2 linked regions of the Homo sapiens genome follow. The protein of the gene in region 1 interacts with the protein of each later gene in a biochemical or structural test. Each region holds a gene or a part of one and is shown in the gene's direction. Other genes may lie near its edges.

What was found. Proteins that work in one complex are often made in the same cells at the same time.
Region 2: the proteins of RASGRF1 (region 1) and MARK3 form a complex in vitro, tested with the Homo sapiens proteins (one study listed by BioGRID).

What each region holds. Positions count from the first base shown.
Region 1 is NC_000015.10:79,084,091-79,087,842, reverse strand, and holds part of RASGRF1 (ras-specific guanine nucleotide-releasing factor 1), read left to right. Parts: intron 1-3,752. UniProt on the Homo sapiens protein: Promotes the exchange of Ras-bound GDP by GTP.
Region 2 is NC_000014.9:103,388,263-103,392,014, forward strand, and holds part of MARK3 (MAP/microtubule affinity-regulating kinase 3), read left to right. Parts: intron 1-3,752. UniProt on the Homo sapiens protein: Serine/threonine-protein kinase. Involved in the specific phosphorylation of microtubule-associated proteins for MAP2 and MAP4. Phosphorylates the microtubule-associated protein MAPT/TAU. Phosphorylates CDC25C on 'Ser-216'.

The sequences.
Region 1 (3,752 bases):
GTTTATATAGGTTCCATTTGCCTCTAGACCAACTTTGACTCCTGTGGAAAACTAGATCCTGCTCCTTCCGGCTACACATGTGTACAAAAATTCATCGCTGTTTCTTTTCTCAATCTTTGAGTAAAATCGATGGTGCCAGCAGCTGCTCCATGTTTCTCTTTGACTTGGGTGCCCCATGGCATAAGCCACAGAGCCTAGCATGATAGGTCTAACTCCAGGCCATTCTGTGACCAGGCTTGAGCCTACGAGAAGCTTTGGCTCAATCTGCTGGGCATGTACAGAGTGCCTGAGTTGAGAGGCGTCTACGAAGCCATCTGTTTAACTAGACTAGCTGGTGTCTGATGAAGAATTGGTTTCAGCAGGAAGCCATTTTACCAATGTCCAAGCAGACAGCTTCCTCCCTGAAGGGCCAGGGATGGTTTTTGAAGGAATAGAAACCAACTCTTGGCTGGGAACCCCTAAGTGGCTGGGGCAGAATCAGGGACCGTGCACATAGTAGATGCACAGGAAATGCACACTAAGCTGGACTTGTTAGCCTATCATATGTTAATTCCATATTTTATGTCCTCAACCTAGAAGCTGACTGTCACAGGCTGTGAGCCCCTGAGGAAGACAGACATAGATAAGGGTGAGCTCCTCACCCCGTGAAGATGCTCTAATAGCGGGATATGCAAGGCGCTCTGGCACCAAACACCAAGCCCATCCTAACATTGTGCAGTCTCATCTGGCTGTATCCAGACCAGTCTGACTGCCTCTGCTGCAGCCTCAGTGTCCAGGGAGCTCTAGCCTAGGATCCTAAGGCCTCATGAAGTCAGACTGGCACAGCCATGCCCCCTATTCCATCTGGCAGCTGCAAGCCACCTCCCTGGCCTGGGCCCTTTGCTCAGTCCTGACCTCTTCTGCTCCCAGCCCTGTAGCCCACACACTGAAAGCCCAAGTGCTGTTGACTTAGAGCTTGGGTTCATCTTCCCTAGAGGCTGGCCCTTGGTGTTCCATACCCTTCTTTGGCATGGAGTCCCCCAACCCCGACTTTTCCCACTCTCATTCCAAGCTCCCTGAAATAAAATGTCCAGCCCCAGCTTCTCAGTAGGGTACCCAGCCAAACCAACTCCAGCACTCCTTTCACTCTTCCCAACCAGGAAGGGTCAAAATGTGGGCACCAGGCTCTTCCTGATTCTCTTAGGACAGAAGAGACTCAGACAAATCCTGGCAGCCAGAACCTCAGAACCTGATGTTGTTGGAGGTCCCAGAAGCTGGGGGGGGGGGGTCTTAGAACCTGTTGTCTACCCACTTAGTTCCCTTCTCTAGAGACAAGACAAAGCCCCACTCCTGAGTCCTCATGCACAGGACACATTACTGGTTGGCCTGGCAGATTCAGATCAACAACAGCCCCGAGGTTAATGAGTACACTCATTTTACAGATGAGGAAACAATTTCATCTGTGGCTGCCCAGCAAGGCAATGGCAGAAATGAGATGCGTTCTCTGGCTTTCTCACTCTGTAGCTATTCTGTTGTCACCACAAAGCACACCCTCCTTGGAGTTATAACACATTCAACCTCTCAGCCAATCAGAAAAATGAAAAGCTGAATGTAGAAAAATAAGGTTGCTCTAAAAGCAGCAGCCCTTAGACACAGAACCCTGGGACGCTGGTATACATATGGTGCCAACAACGCAGAATGTAAGATGCTTGCACCTATAGGAAACCAGCAAGACTACCCAACCCGTTCCAGACCATGCCCAATCCTAGCAGGTGTGGGGCCCCAGGATCAACTGTGTGGGCTACTCATCACCCACCCCATCCCCCAAATGTTCCTAGAGTTGGAATGAAGTTGAAGAGGCACAGTAATTATGCCTGGAGTGGGACAAGGGAATATCGGCTCCTTGCGCCTATGCTTGGTGACAGTGTGGTGAGGATCAGAAACAAATCGTACATCCACAAGCCTGAACTAAAATTCCACATTGTTTATTCACGCAGCAAACATTTTGGCCCTTGGTGTCAGGCCTGTGGTAGGTCCTTCAGACACAGAGAAGAAGAAAACTTAATCTTTGTCTTCAAAACACTCACAGTTGAGTAGGGAGCTCGCCTCTCTCCTCAAAACTCACTCCCACAGTAATCACCAAGTGATGGCAATTCTTCCCTCCTGAAGAGCCTGGGACTCTTTCTCCCTGCCTTGCCTTGTTCAGGAGCTCATGGAACCCTGCCTGAGACTTATTGTAGCTATTCTGTTGTCACCATAAAGCACATACTCCTTGGAGTTATAGCACATTCAACCTCTCAGCCAATCAGAAAAATGAAAAGCTGAATGTAGAAAAATAAGGTTGCTCTAAAAGCAGCAGCCCTTAGACACAGAACCCTGGGATGTTGTGAAAGCATCAGTGGCTCCCATTGCCTTTAGAAAGATATTCAAACTCCCAACCATGACCTGGAGTACCCAGTAAGATCCACCCTTTGCTGGCCCCTCTAACCCAGAGCCACCCATCCCACTCTCCTCCTTCCTCATCCTGCTTAGGCCACCACTTTTCAGAGCTGCATGTGCCTCCCCTTTCCTATCTCAAGGCTGTGGCAGAAGCCATTCCCTCCACCTGAAATGATCTCCCACCAACCATGCCCTTAGAATGAACAGCTCCTTCTTCTCCTGCAGGTCTTAGCCTAAACGTCACCTCTGTCATCACGTGCATTTACAGCACTGGACTCTTCATTCATACAGCTGATCACAGTCTGTGATTACCTCATGTATTTGGCCAGTTGCAAACCATCCTTCTCCCCACTGGAATGTAAGCACCAGGAGAGCAGGAGGCAGGCAGAGGCAGGAGACTAATCAGGGGCTGCTGGAACCCAGAGTCCAGGTGAGAGAGGTGGAAGCCCTGAGAGGATGAAGGAACGGGGTCTTTACGATTAAAAAAAACTTCACCAAGAGACACTCACGTGGAAAATTGGCAAGACCTGCCATCCCATTGGTTGTAACAGAAAAGAAGACAGGATCAAACCTGAAGTCCATGGTTCTGCCTGAGGCCACCAGGCAGATGCATGTCACCAGTAGAGAGGGGAGAGCTGAAGACAAGCAGGTTTATGGGCAGTGGAAGAGGATGAGTGGCAGTGATCTCATCACATTTAATCTCAGGGAGGTCACATTTGAGAAGCCCAAGGGCAGAAAAGGGCTTTAATGCCCCCACCCTCTAGTATGGTAAGGACACTTATTACAGAAACCAGCGGAGCCCCACGAGGAGGACAGTGGGTGGTGTGTGCTGAGAGGGGTGGACCGAACAAAACGGCATGTGCAGAAGCTCAGCAGGTGGCGGCCCTGTTGTCCAGAGCCCAGGGAATGAAGTGATGTGGCTGCCAGGTGCACCGCAGGGGACGTGCAGGCTGGCTGAGAATAGTGCCAGCTGGGCAGAGCCTCATGAGGTCACTTTGGGGTCTGCCTGCACTCAACGCTTTCACAGCCTGGCCTGGCTGGTCAGCCTTTGCTTGCACTTCTTCAAGAGCAACGAGCCAGCACTGGGAAGTTGAATTTGGCGGCTCGTCTACACTAGGATTTCAGTTTTCAAGACTGCCAGGCAGGTGCCATCACTCCTCCTTCATAGTATTTGCCAAACCTGCACAGGAGAAGTAGGATTTGAACCTTCTCTCCCACTGGGTCACTATAGACAAATCCTTAACTTCCCTTCATCGATGATTTTCTGCCTCATTCTGAGGAGCCCTGGGGGCCACACTCCCACATCAATCAGAGCAGTCCCATTTTTAACTGTT
Region 2 (3,752 bases), on another chromosome or scaffold:
TTTTAAAAATCAAGTTTATCACACATCGTTGCATTAATTTACCATGCCCTGTTACATTTTTAACTCTTGCATTGGCATGTTCTGGAAGGAGCTGTGTAGCTTTCACAGTGTGGAGCCCTTGTGTCAGTGTTATAACTCAGGTATAGTCCATATTAATTACCTACATTACTGCACTGCTAAGTATTAGACTTCCTGCCAATTGAGTGGTGAATGTACAAGAATGAATGGGAGCTCTCATTCTGTTGAGAACCTTTTTTCTTAAAGTTAGGTTTGTTGAGATGTAATGTTCATCTGTTTTAAGTATACAGTTTGGTGAATTTTGACAAGCGTATAGTTATGTAACCGCTATCACAATCAAGATGTAGAACACTTCCATTGCCAGAAAGGTCCCTTATGGCCCTGTATAGTCAGTGCCCTCTCCCTTTCTTAGCCCCTGGGTAACCACTGATCTGCTTTCTGTCCCTGTAGTTTTGCCTTTTCTAGGATGCTATGTAAATGGAGTCACAGTGTAAATAATCTTTTGTGTCTTCTTTCACTTAGAGTAGTGCTTTTGAGATTTATTTGAATGTGTATCAGTATCAGTAGTTCATTCCTTTTTATTGCTGAGTAAGTATTTCCTTGTTTGGATGTGCCACAATTTTTTTTAATCCACTCACCAGTGATGGACATTTTTGGCTATTGTGACTAGAACAGTTTTCTTTTAGTATTCTGTAAAAATACTTTTTATTGTGCTTACCCCAGGAATCTTATTTAAATTTTAAGTAATTGTATATAACTGTGATAAGAATGTCGCTTATTAGATCAAGACTAAGAAAAGGCAGGCCGGGTGTGGTGGCTCATACCTGTAATCCCAGCACTTTGAGAGGCTGAGGCTGGCGGATCACGAGGTCAGGAGATCGAGACCATCCTGGCTAACATGGTGAAACCCTGTCTCTACTAAAAATACGAAAAATTAGCCGGGCGTGGTGGCAGGCACCTGTAGTCCTAGCTACTCGGGAGGCTGAGGCAGGAGAATGGCATGAACCTGGGAGGCAGAGCTTGCAGTGAGCCGAGATTGGGCCACCACATTCCAGCCTGGGCGACAGAGCCAGACTCCATCTCAAAAAAAAAAAAAAATTAGCCAGGTGCGGTGGTGCATGCCTGTAATTCCAGCTACTCAGGAGGCTGACGTGGGAGAATCACTTGAACACAAGAGGTGAAGGTTGCAGTGAGCCGATATCATGCCACTGCACTGCAGCCTGAGTGACAGAGTAAGACTCTGTCTCCAAAAAAAAAAAAAAAAAAAAGCAGACAACTTGCAACATTATCTTCATCCTTGTACACTAATTTGTTTTTGTTTGTTTGATTTCCAAATATTAATGTCCACCCTTAGTGAATGGGTATATAAAAGTTTACTGTTGGCCAGGTGCAGTGGCTCACGCCTGTAATCCCAGCACTTTGGGAGGCCGGGGCAGGTGGATCACCTGAGGTCAGGAGTTCGAGACCAGCCTGACCAAGATGGCAAAACCCTGTCTCTACTAAAAATACAAAAATTAGCCGGGTGCGGTGGCGGGCACCTGTAATCCCAGCTACTTGGGAGGCTGAGGCTGGAGAATCGCTTGAACCCTGGAGACGGAGAGTGCAGTGAGCTGAGATCAAGCCATTGCCCTCCAGCCTGGGCGACAGAGGGATACTCCGTCTCAAAAAAAAAAAAAAAAAAAAAAAGGCCGGGCGCGGTGGCTCACACCTGTAATCCCAGCACTCTGGGAGGCCGAGGCGGGCAGATCACGAGGTCAGGAGATCGAGACCATCCTGGCTAACACGGTGAAACCCTGTGTCTACCAAAAATATAAAAAATTAGCCGGGCGTGGTGGCAGGTGCCTGTAGTCCCAGCTACTCGGGAGGCTGAGGCAGGAGAATGGCGTGATCCCGGGAGGCGGAGCTTGCAGTGAGCCAAGATGGCGCCACTGCACTCCAGCCTGGGCGACAGAGTGAGACTCCATCTCAAAAAAAAAGTTCACTGTTGCTGCATCGTGTTATAGCTCAAAAGAACTACTCAATCTGATCCAGTGAGGTTGCTGAGACTCAGAGAGGTGACAAAGGCTGCTAGTAATGACAGAAGACCACTAACTATTTAGTAGCAAAGCCTCTACTGGGCCCCAGATCTCTAGCTTAGGCTCCACAAGGAGATGTAGTTGTACCTGTACATAGAGTATTTCTAAAACTTTTTTTTAAGCTTGTAGATCAGGGGTGTCCAATCTTTTGGCTTCCCCGGGCCACATTGGAAGAATTGTCTTGGGCCACAGATAAAATACACTAACACTAACAATAGCTGATAAGCTTTAAAAAAACTGCAAAAAAAATCTCACAGTGTTTTAACAAAGTTTATGAATTTGTGTTGGGTCACTTTCAAAGCTGTGGTGGGCTGCATGCAGCCCTAGGGCTGTGGGTTGGACAAGCTTGCTGTAGATTTTATTTTGATTTTGAGACAGTATCTCGCTCTGTCACCCAGGCTGGAGTGCAGTGGAGCAATCACAGCTTGCTGTAACCTTGACCTCTTGGGCTCAAGCAATCCTTCCGACTCAGCCTCCTGAGTAGCTGGGACTACAGGCGTGCCCCACCACATGCATGGCTAATTTTTAATTTTTTCGTAGAGATGAGATCTCCCTGTATTGCCCAAGGTGGTCTCTAACTCCTGGGCTCAAGCAGGCCTCCTGTCCCAGCCTCCCAAAGCACTGGAATTACAGGTGTGAGCCACCACACTCAGTCAAAACTATTTTTTAAAATATTTTATTATAGGAAAATTTAAAAAAATAGAATGTTATTTATCAATGCTTCTCAGCCACAGGGTGATTTTGCCCTCTAGTGGACATTTGACAATGTCTAAAGACATCTTTGGTTATCACAGCTGGAGAAAGGTTTGGCTGACCAGGAATGCTACTAAACATTTTACAGTACGTAGGACAGCCTTCCACAGCAAAGAATTACCCGGCCTAAAATGTCAGTAGTGCCAGCGTTGAGAAACCCTGGTATGTACTTAGCCCCCCATGTACTCAACAGCGCAGCTCAGTGGCCAATCTTATTTCATTTATAAATGAAGAAGCAAATGCAGTATCATTTCCTCTCTAAAGCTTTTAGAAGAGATAAAGCCTGTTTTAAGAAAAAAGCAATACTTTTATCATATTTTCTTAATATCAAATATGCAGTATTTAAATTTTCTCACATTTCTAATTTTTAAACTGTTCAAATTAGAATCCAGCTTGAATTCATACATTATAGTTGGCTGATATGTCAAATATGCTTTTTTTTTTTTTTTAATTGAGATGGAGTCTTGCTCTGTCGCCCAGGTTGGAGTGCAGTGGTGCAATCTCGGCTCACTGCCAACCTCTGCCGCCCGGGTTCAAGCGATTGTCGTGCGCAGCCTCCCGAGTAGCTGGGATTACAGGCTCCCGCCACCATGCCTGGCTATTTTTTTTTTTTTTTTTTTTTTTTTTTTAGTAGAGATGGGGTTTCGCCATGTTGGCCAGGCTGTTCTCAAACTCCTGACCTCAGGTGATCCGCCCGCCTTGGCCTCCCAAAGTGCTGGGATTACAGGCGTGAGCCACTGTACCTGGTCAAAATATGCTTTTTAAAGGCAACCAAACAGTTTGCATTTCAGTTTATGTTCTATAGTTATATGGAGCCACGGATACATCCTTTTTCTATACTGGCAAAATGAGAAACATATTTTTCACCTGAATTTCAAAGGATATGACACTTCGTAAGCCTGGTAA